Linked DNA regions of Homo sapiens. The protein of the gene in region 1 purifies or fractionates together with the protein of each later gene. This does not show direct contact. Each region holds a gene or a part of one and is shown on either strand. Other genes may lie near its edges. The genes, in order: MAMDC2 and CDAN1.

Evidence for each region.
Region 2: the proteins of MAMDC2 (region 1) and CDAN1 purify together in Homo sapiens (affinity purification with mass spectrometry; 2 studies listed by BioGRID and IntAct, with this or other methods). This does not show direct contact.

The regions. Positions count from the first base shown.
Region 1 is NC_000009.12:70,041,580-70,045,483, reverse strand, and holds the start of MAMDC2 (MAM domain-containing protein 2 isoform 1 precursor), read right to left. Parts: upstream 1,637-3,904; 5' UTR 1,287-1,636; coding exon 1,253-1,286; intron 901-1,252; coding exon 787-900; intron 1-786.
Region 2 is NC_000015.10:42,730,506-42,734,409, forward strand, and holds part of CDAN1 (codanin-1), read right to left. Parts: intron 3,842-3,904; coding exon 3,721-3,841; intron 3,543-3,720; coding exon 3,433-3,542; intron 2,682-3,432; coding exon 2,592-2,681; intron 1,904-2,591; coding exon 1,828-1,903; intron 1,321-1,827; coding exon 1,115-1,320; intron 827-1,114; coding exon 706-826; intron 567-705; coding exon 420-566; intron 260-419; coding exon 93-259; intron 1-92. UniProt on the Homo sapiens protein: May act as a negative regulator of ASF1 in chromatin assembly.

The DNA.
Region 1 (3,904 bases):
CACTGGTGGTGACAAAAGAGAGAGAAAGGAAAGAAGGGACACCCAGTGCCGCCTGCCATTGGGTACTGAGAACCACACTTTAAAACAAAAAACAAAAAAAACTATATAAAGGCAAGATGACACTTCAGAAGACCCCACATTTAAACTTTGTCCTTGGGACCCAAACAGTATAGAGTAGTAAGACAATGACCACCAGTGAGACAGGGACCCCAGGCATTTGGCAGTGTACATGGTTTCTTTTGTCCAGGGCAGGATTACAAACAGGAGTGTGAGGATGAAATCATGCAGCAAAAAACACTGTCAGGGTCAAGGCAGACGTGATGTCTTAGCACTGACGTCCCATCACAGAATTGTGGAACCATTTCTGCAAAGCTGAAGGAGAACTAGTCCCATGCAACTTTTCCCAACTCACAGACATGTCTCCTGAGGACCAGAAAGGTTGCTGGCCTGCAGAGGCACACAGCTGGTGTGCCTGCAGAGGCCCACAGCGGAGAACAATCATTAGCTGTGCTCCGTTTCTCCCTTCCATTAAGGAGTGCTGGGGTGAGACGCAAATTTTAAGCTTCTACCCATAGGCCAGGTAAACAAAGGGCGGCCTCCCGCCCGCCCCGTTCCTGCCTCGGCCATCCCTTGCAGCACAGCTGAGGGCTTGAAGGAGGATCCATGACTCACACTTTTCTTGCCGCGGAGAATTAACTCCAAGATAACATTACCCATGTGGGAAAAAAAAGCAAGCCATCAAGGAAGAAAGTTCACTTCGCGCCCCTCTCCACCGAGCCTCCTTACCTTCCTCATTTAAAATCCACGGCAGAGAGGCCAACACGGAGTCAAAGCCGCAAGTGCTCTCTTCAAAGGCACAGGACCCAGCGGGCAGGTCGAGGGCACCGGCGAGCTGCAGGGCTGCGGGCACAAAGCGAGTTTCAGTTCGAGCTCCACCCAGGAGCCTTTGCACCAACTCGGGGAGCCCCAGGGGGACTACCTGGTGAAAGTGGGGGAAAGACGAGCGGGAGGGGGCGGGAGAGGGATGCAGTACCTGTCCCCCAGCATCCCCGGGCGCCTCCACTGAGCGACCCCACGCCCACCCCCACCCCCACCCCAGGCTTGGCCAGGGGAGGGAGTTAGCGGCTGCGGAGGATCAGGAGGCGCCCTCGGATGGCCCAGCCCAGCACGGTGAGCCGGACCCCCGGGGGCAGCAGGAGCGGGGGCGAGTCGTCAGAGCGCCCCCGGGGTTGTCCCGGGGTCCAGGCCTTACCTTGCAACGCCAGGAGGACGCCCCTTAACAGCATGGTCGCGTTTCAGGGAGGATGACTAGGAAGGGGTGCAAGTTGCCAGCCCGCTGGGACTGGCTGCTCCTAGTGAAAGGGATCGTGGGAGGCGGGGGCGCCGGGGACCCAAGGAGGGAGAAGTCGAGAGGCAAAGCTTGCGCTCTGAGCTGCCCAACTTTGCAGAGCGGCTCCCGGAGCCGAGCGGTATGCTGGAAGGTGCTCGAATGGAGAGCGCCAGCGCCCCGGCGCTGAGCAGCAGCCTCAGGTCAGACCGCGGCCCAGCTGGTCCTGGGCGACGATGGGGCTGGACAGGGAGGAGACAACTGCACACTTTGAAAGGCCAGCCACGACTGGCTGGGAGAGGAGAGGTCGGCCCGCAGTGCCTTCGCTCAGGATTTTAAAGCTTGGGACCAGAGCCCTTGCAGACACTTGGAAGGGGCAGGCCTTCCAGGAGTCCCTCCGCTGGGTTGGGACCCGAGGCTCCCGCCCCGCCCAGCCGCGGTGGGAACTCGCTTATTTCTGGGGACAGCTTCCCTGCATCTGGCATGTCAGTCCCGCAGGGCTGGCCCTAATTTTAACTTCTTCTCCCCAGAATGAAAGAGGGTGGAATTCTCCAAGGACAGCCTGGAGGAAAATTTGGAAACGGTTGGGTGGAATAAGCTTTATATCTAAGGAGTTTCAGCGTTTACGGTCCAGCAATGCTAACCCTGGAATACCACCCCCACTTTTTTTAGCCGGTGGAATGTCTGGCATGCCTGGTGCTCAGCATTCCCTCCGTCCGGTGAAATGGGGGCATTCCTTCTCTCCAAAGAGCCATGATAGATTGATTAATGGGAGGCTTTACACTGGGAGGGGGTTGTTGGGGAGGGAGTTACTTCTGAGGAAGCTGTTTGCTTTGGGCACTAAGTGGGTCTCCAACAATATTCTTTTCTTGTAAAGAGTTCTTCTTCCTCCCCTCCTCTTCCTCCTCCTCCTCCTCCTTTCTCCCATTTATAATTTTGTGCAGGCAATTTTGTGAGGAGGGCAGTGGTTTTAAAACCTGAGGGTGCATCAGAATCTGCTGAAGGGCCTCACCCTCCGTTTCCGATCCAGTAGCTCTGGAGTGGGCCTGAGAGGCTGCACGTCCCTAATAAGTTTCCAGAGGCTGCTGCTGCCGCAGCGGGTTTGGAACAATACTTTGAGGACCACTGGCCTAACAAACTCCAGTTGAGCCATCAGTTCAACCTGCTCCCATGCCTTCACCTGGCTTCCAGACCGCTGGGTTTCCTGGTCTTTCATTGGCCGCCGCTTCTCGGCCTCTTTGCGTTACCTCTGTAACCCCTTAACATGAGAGTGCCTCCAAGTTCTTCCCTGTCACTCCTGTTTCTTTCTCTATCCAGCCCCTCAATGCTGTCCTCAAGTCTCATAGTTTTAGATACCAATGATAGCCTGATAACTCCCACATTTATATTTCTAACCCAGACTACTCACTAACGCCAGACTCTTCGATCTCATTGCCACCTCAACATTTCCAATCGGATGCTTCAGAGCTATTTCATACTTAACAGGTCCCAACATGAAGGCTGCATATTTCTTGCCAAACCTGCCCGTCCCCTGTGTCTTCCTCATCTCAGTAAAAGAACTATTTTCCTCCAGTTGTTCAGGAGAGAAAACTTGGAGGCATCTTCAGCTCATCCGTTCCTGTCAGACATTGCCAATTTCTATCAGCTCAGGATTCAAAACACAGCAGATGCTGACCATGCTCTGTGCCCATGGTGGTGATGCCTTGGTTGGTCCAAGCTGCCCTTGCCATCAACCTGGGATACCGCAGTGGCCTCCTGACCACGGTCTCCCTTCATTTTCTGCCCTGCCCACCCTACTCTATTCTGAACACACTAGTCAGGGTTATCCTTTTAATACAGAAATTGGGCCATGTCACTCCTTAGCTCAAGACCCAACAAGTTCCCAAGTCATTTAGTAAAGTCCAAAGTCTTCACGATGACCAACCAGGCCCTATAGGACCTGCTCCACCCTTTTCTTTCTTTTCTTGCTTTCCTTCTTTTTCTTTTTTTGAGACAGAATCCCACCCTGTCACCAGGCTGGAGTGCGATCTCTGTTCACTGCAAAGTCCACCTCCCAGGTTCAAGCAATTCTCCTGCCTCAGCCTCCCAAGTAGCTGGGATTACAGGCGTGTGACACCACGCCCAGCTAATTTTTGTATTTTTAGTAGAGACAGGGTTTCACCATGTTGGCCAGGATGGTTTCAATCTCTTGACATCATGATCCACCTGCCTCGGACTCCCGAAGTGCTGCGATTACAGGCGTGAGCCACTGCACCCAGCCCCACCCTCTTATTTCTCTGACTTCAATCACCCTGCTTACTCTTCTCTAGCCACACAGACCTCTTGGCTGATCCTCAAACACAGTCCAGCTATCCTTTCAGAATTTTGCACTGGCTGTTCTTTCTGCTCAAAATGCTCTTCCACAAAGAGCCACACAACTCACCGCCTAATGAGGTCTTCACTCAGATGTCACTTTCAGTATTAGAAAATTAGTAACCTTCTCCCTAATAAGGAAAATATATCTGGAATCCTTTTTTAAAGGTAGGAACAAATTTTCATGTGTTTTCTGTAAACAATGATTCAAATGGTCAAAAATTT
Region 2 (3,904 bases), on another chromosome or scaffold:
GCAGACTGCTCGACCCTCTTTATTAATAGCAGGCTTGACCAATGTCCCGAGTCCCGAATCCTTTCATCAAGCCTCAGCCTTGTTCCACTCACCGGTGCAGGCGCAGCAGGAGAGTGAAGATGTCCCGGTAATATTCCAGCAAGGGAACAACATGGTCAGCAAAGGAGAGAAACTCCACCAGCCAGGGCACGGTGAGCACCGCCCGGCGGGCCTGCAGCCCTCGCTGCAGCAGAGTCCGCACATCCAGGACCGGAGGGACCTGGGAGGGCCAGAGCTCAGTCAGGGGGCAGGTCCCTAGGAAGGGCTGGGAGATGCCCTTTAACCTGCCTGGTTTCCAGAATAGCCAAGGAAACCAGTCAGCTTCAGTGCCTGGCCGGTCCTCCCTGCTCCCTCCTCACCAGAATCCCCCGCCCATTCACCTGGCTCCTGAGGGCCAGAATGGAGTCCTGAAGCTCACCGGTCGGGGGAGGTTCAGGCCCCCGGTATGGCAGGAAAGCCACAAAGCCCAGGAATTTAGCCAAAAGTCTCAGGCTAAGAAGCACCACAGCAAATTGCTTCCGCTCACCCTGCATGGAATCAAGGGAAGTAAAAGGTCCAAGCATGAGGCTTCCAGAACAATTCCCGATCTGTTATAAAGTTTTTCTTGAACATACTCCCTTCCCTCCTGGGTCAGACCCCATTATTTCCCTTGTTCTGTTTTCGGACCTGCCAGTCTACGTCTGACTCCCCGTCTTCATCATTGGGCTCATGCTGGGGCAGGGCAAGACCATTGAGCTCCTGGATCTTCAAGCTCAGACTGTCCATGAGATGCTGGTTAAACTGGAAGCTGAGAAGAAGGGGTGGGTGGGGCATAAGCACTGGAAGAGGTACAGGAAAAGCCAGAATCGAGAAGGGGCACTCCAGAGGGAAGGGAGCAGCAGGACAGACAGGGAGGCCCAGGAGCAATGAAATCACCCACGTGGGTGACAGAATGAGAAGTGCAATGAAGCCAGCAAGTTGGAGCTGGAAGGAGCCTATCTCCAGGCAAAGGAGACTGGAGAACTATTTACCCTTTTGGGAAGCCAAACCTTTCCTGGCCTCTGCCCCATTCCTTGCAAGACACAGGGGAGCCTACCTGCTGGCACTAAGGATGAAGTCCCTAAAGAAGCCTTGACAGCCTGGGAAGGTGGGGGGTGGGCAGGGCCCCCCACTGCTCTGAGGAGCCATAAGCCGTTCCTGTAGGCGCCACAACCGCCCCAGCTTGTCAGCTCCCAGCATACTCAACACATCTGGGGCCTCGCCCAAGACGGTGCCCCCAGCACCACCAGGGCTCTGACACATCTAGGGTGGAAGAGGAAGGAGAGAAATTAAAAAAATCAGCAAGTGGGAGGGAAGGACTGAACAAAAAATAAGGAGAAAGTAATGAACATTTAAGGAATGCCAACTGTGTCAAGTGCTTTAGATAGATTTTCTGAGATGTGAATTACAGTATTGTTTCACAGGTGAAGAAACTTAAATTCCAAGGTTAAGCATGTGCCTAGGGTCACTAGAGCTAGGATCTGAAACAAAGCTTGACTACTTACTAAGCCTGGGCTCTTTACCACAGCACAAATCAGGGAAGGCAGCAGCAGGCTAGAGGAGCTGCAGGGCCCGGGATGTGTCAAAGAGAGTGCCCTGGCTTTTCTGTGGCCACTGGAGTTTCAGCCACTCCGCGAGGAGTAGAACTCTTGTTCAAATTCCAGCCCAGGACCTGCCAGGCTGTCTGCCCTATCCCAAAGTGCAGCCGTTAAGTGGCTGCCTGTGATGCCTGCTGTTTAATGTGGATTAATCTCTTGCTGGGGCTGTTACCTGGAGTAGTTGTTTTTGGAAAAGCCGAACAAAGTGGCTGTGGCTGCAGGCTGCGGAGAGCTGACCCATCATGGCCCTGAGGAATAGAAGGCAGGAATGAAGGGTGTGGAAAGGAGGGAGAGGGAGAAAGATCTGAGAGAAGCAGCCAACCCCTGGACTTCCCAGCCGTTTACCAGGGACTTGAGCAGACCTCAGCCAGAGCCAGCCTGCAAAGGGACACTGAAGGCAAGGGACACTCCCTCAGCACCAAGGTCCTCCGAGGCTAGAGGTGCACTTAACCAAACAAGAAATCATGCGACCACACCCCCCGACCGTCTTCAGCCACACTAACAGGCGGCGGGTTTCATGAGCAATGTGAAGGGAGATGACTGGACTGAGGTTCGCGTTCTGAGCCCAGGCATCTACCTGCACAGTGACCAGACTTGCCCAAATTAGAGGATGGAGAAGATGGAGGCTGGATGTGTCTAAGCAGTGACTTGGGCCAAAAAAACCTCAAGCAACCTGAGTTAAGAGCTTTGGACTTTCTAAGCAATTGCCACTACAGAACAAGGATAAGACACCTGTGAGTGGAAGGAGCTGGAGAGACACATCCCTTTCGAATAGAGGCAGAGTTATCAATAACTAAAGAGATTTCGGAGGATAGTAGAAAACAGCTAATGGCTGGTAGGAGCGGGGAAAACCTTCCCTCCTCCTCCCTCCTGCCACCGAGCAAGCACTGAGCTACTCATTGCCAGGAACAAGAAAGACAAGGTCTGAGCACCCACCTGATTCTGCTGCCCAAGCCCTTCTCAAAATCCCAGCCAGGCTCCTCATGGTGATCTTCCCACTCTCGCAGCACCTCATAAAACACATCCCTGACGCATAAGAACGCCTGATCAGCCGAGGCACTCACTCCCACCAGTGCCTTCCTGCCCCTGGAAGAACTATCCGTAGCCCACCCACCACCTTTTTTTTTTTTGGAGATGGAGTCTTGCTCTTGTCACTCAGGCTGGATTGCAATGACGCGATCTCAGCTCACTGCAACCTCCGCCCCGCCTGGGTTCAAGCGATTCTCCTGCCTCAGCCTCCAGAGTAGCTGGGATTACAAGTGCCCACCACCACGCCTGGCTAATTTTTGTATTTTTAGTAGAGACGGAGTTTCACCATGTTGGCCCGGCTGGTCTCAAACTCCTGACCTCAGGTGATCCGCCCCTCGGCCTCCTGAAGTGCTAGGATTACAGGCGTGAGCCACCACACCCGGCCAGCAGCCCCATTTTTAAATTTCTCCAGAGTTCTCTATATGATGACAGTAGTGCTACAGACCAGCAGCACATTACAGGCTTCATGTACTTCTGTGGGCAGTGACAGTTCATCCTGGCACACTCTTGCTTGAGAACCCTGAGACTAAAACCATACACCTGTGAGATGGCTTGCTAAGCGCCGGGGTTCACAGATGCACATGAGAATGAAGCCAGGTGGTCCCTATGATGGCCGGCAGGAAGGACCTGGGGGGACTAACCCACCACCTGTTGGTGCCAAACTCCTAATTTCTATGAAACCAAACAGCTGCCTATTCCAGAAAAATGTCATCTCATTCCCTCCCCAAAAAGTCCCTTTTCTTATCACCTCTGTTTCTTAAAAGTATGAAAGGCTCGGTCACTGGAGAAGTTGGCACGATTGTCAGTCTCTGGCTGAAAGGAGACAGCTTGAGTAGAGGGAGGCATCACCAGAGAGACCTAAAATACAGCAGGAACGTTAGGAACTGCAGGGTCATGCTGAGAAAACTTCTCCCTCTTATTCTTGCCCAGAGTTAGCTCACATTACACTGAAGTGTCGTCAGCAGGGTTGCCTGAATTTATGAAAGCTAGGAAGGGTTAGGTCCAGGCTAGTGGGCAACTAAGCTGGGGTTACTACCTTGGCAACACTGCCCTCATAGGCAGCTCGAAGGCGGCCTTGCAGAGCTGGTGAGAAGCACAGCAGCCGCTCATTCTCAGCCAGCAGCTTCAAGGTCCCTTTGTCCAGGTTGGAAAGAACCCTGCAGGGACAAGAGCACCTATGACTGAGACCAGAACACAGACTGCAAGTAGGAAGCAAGCAC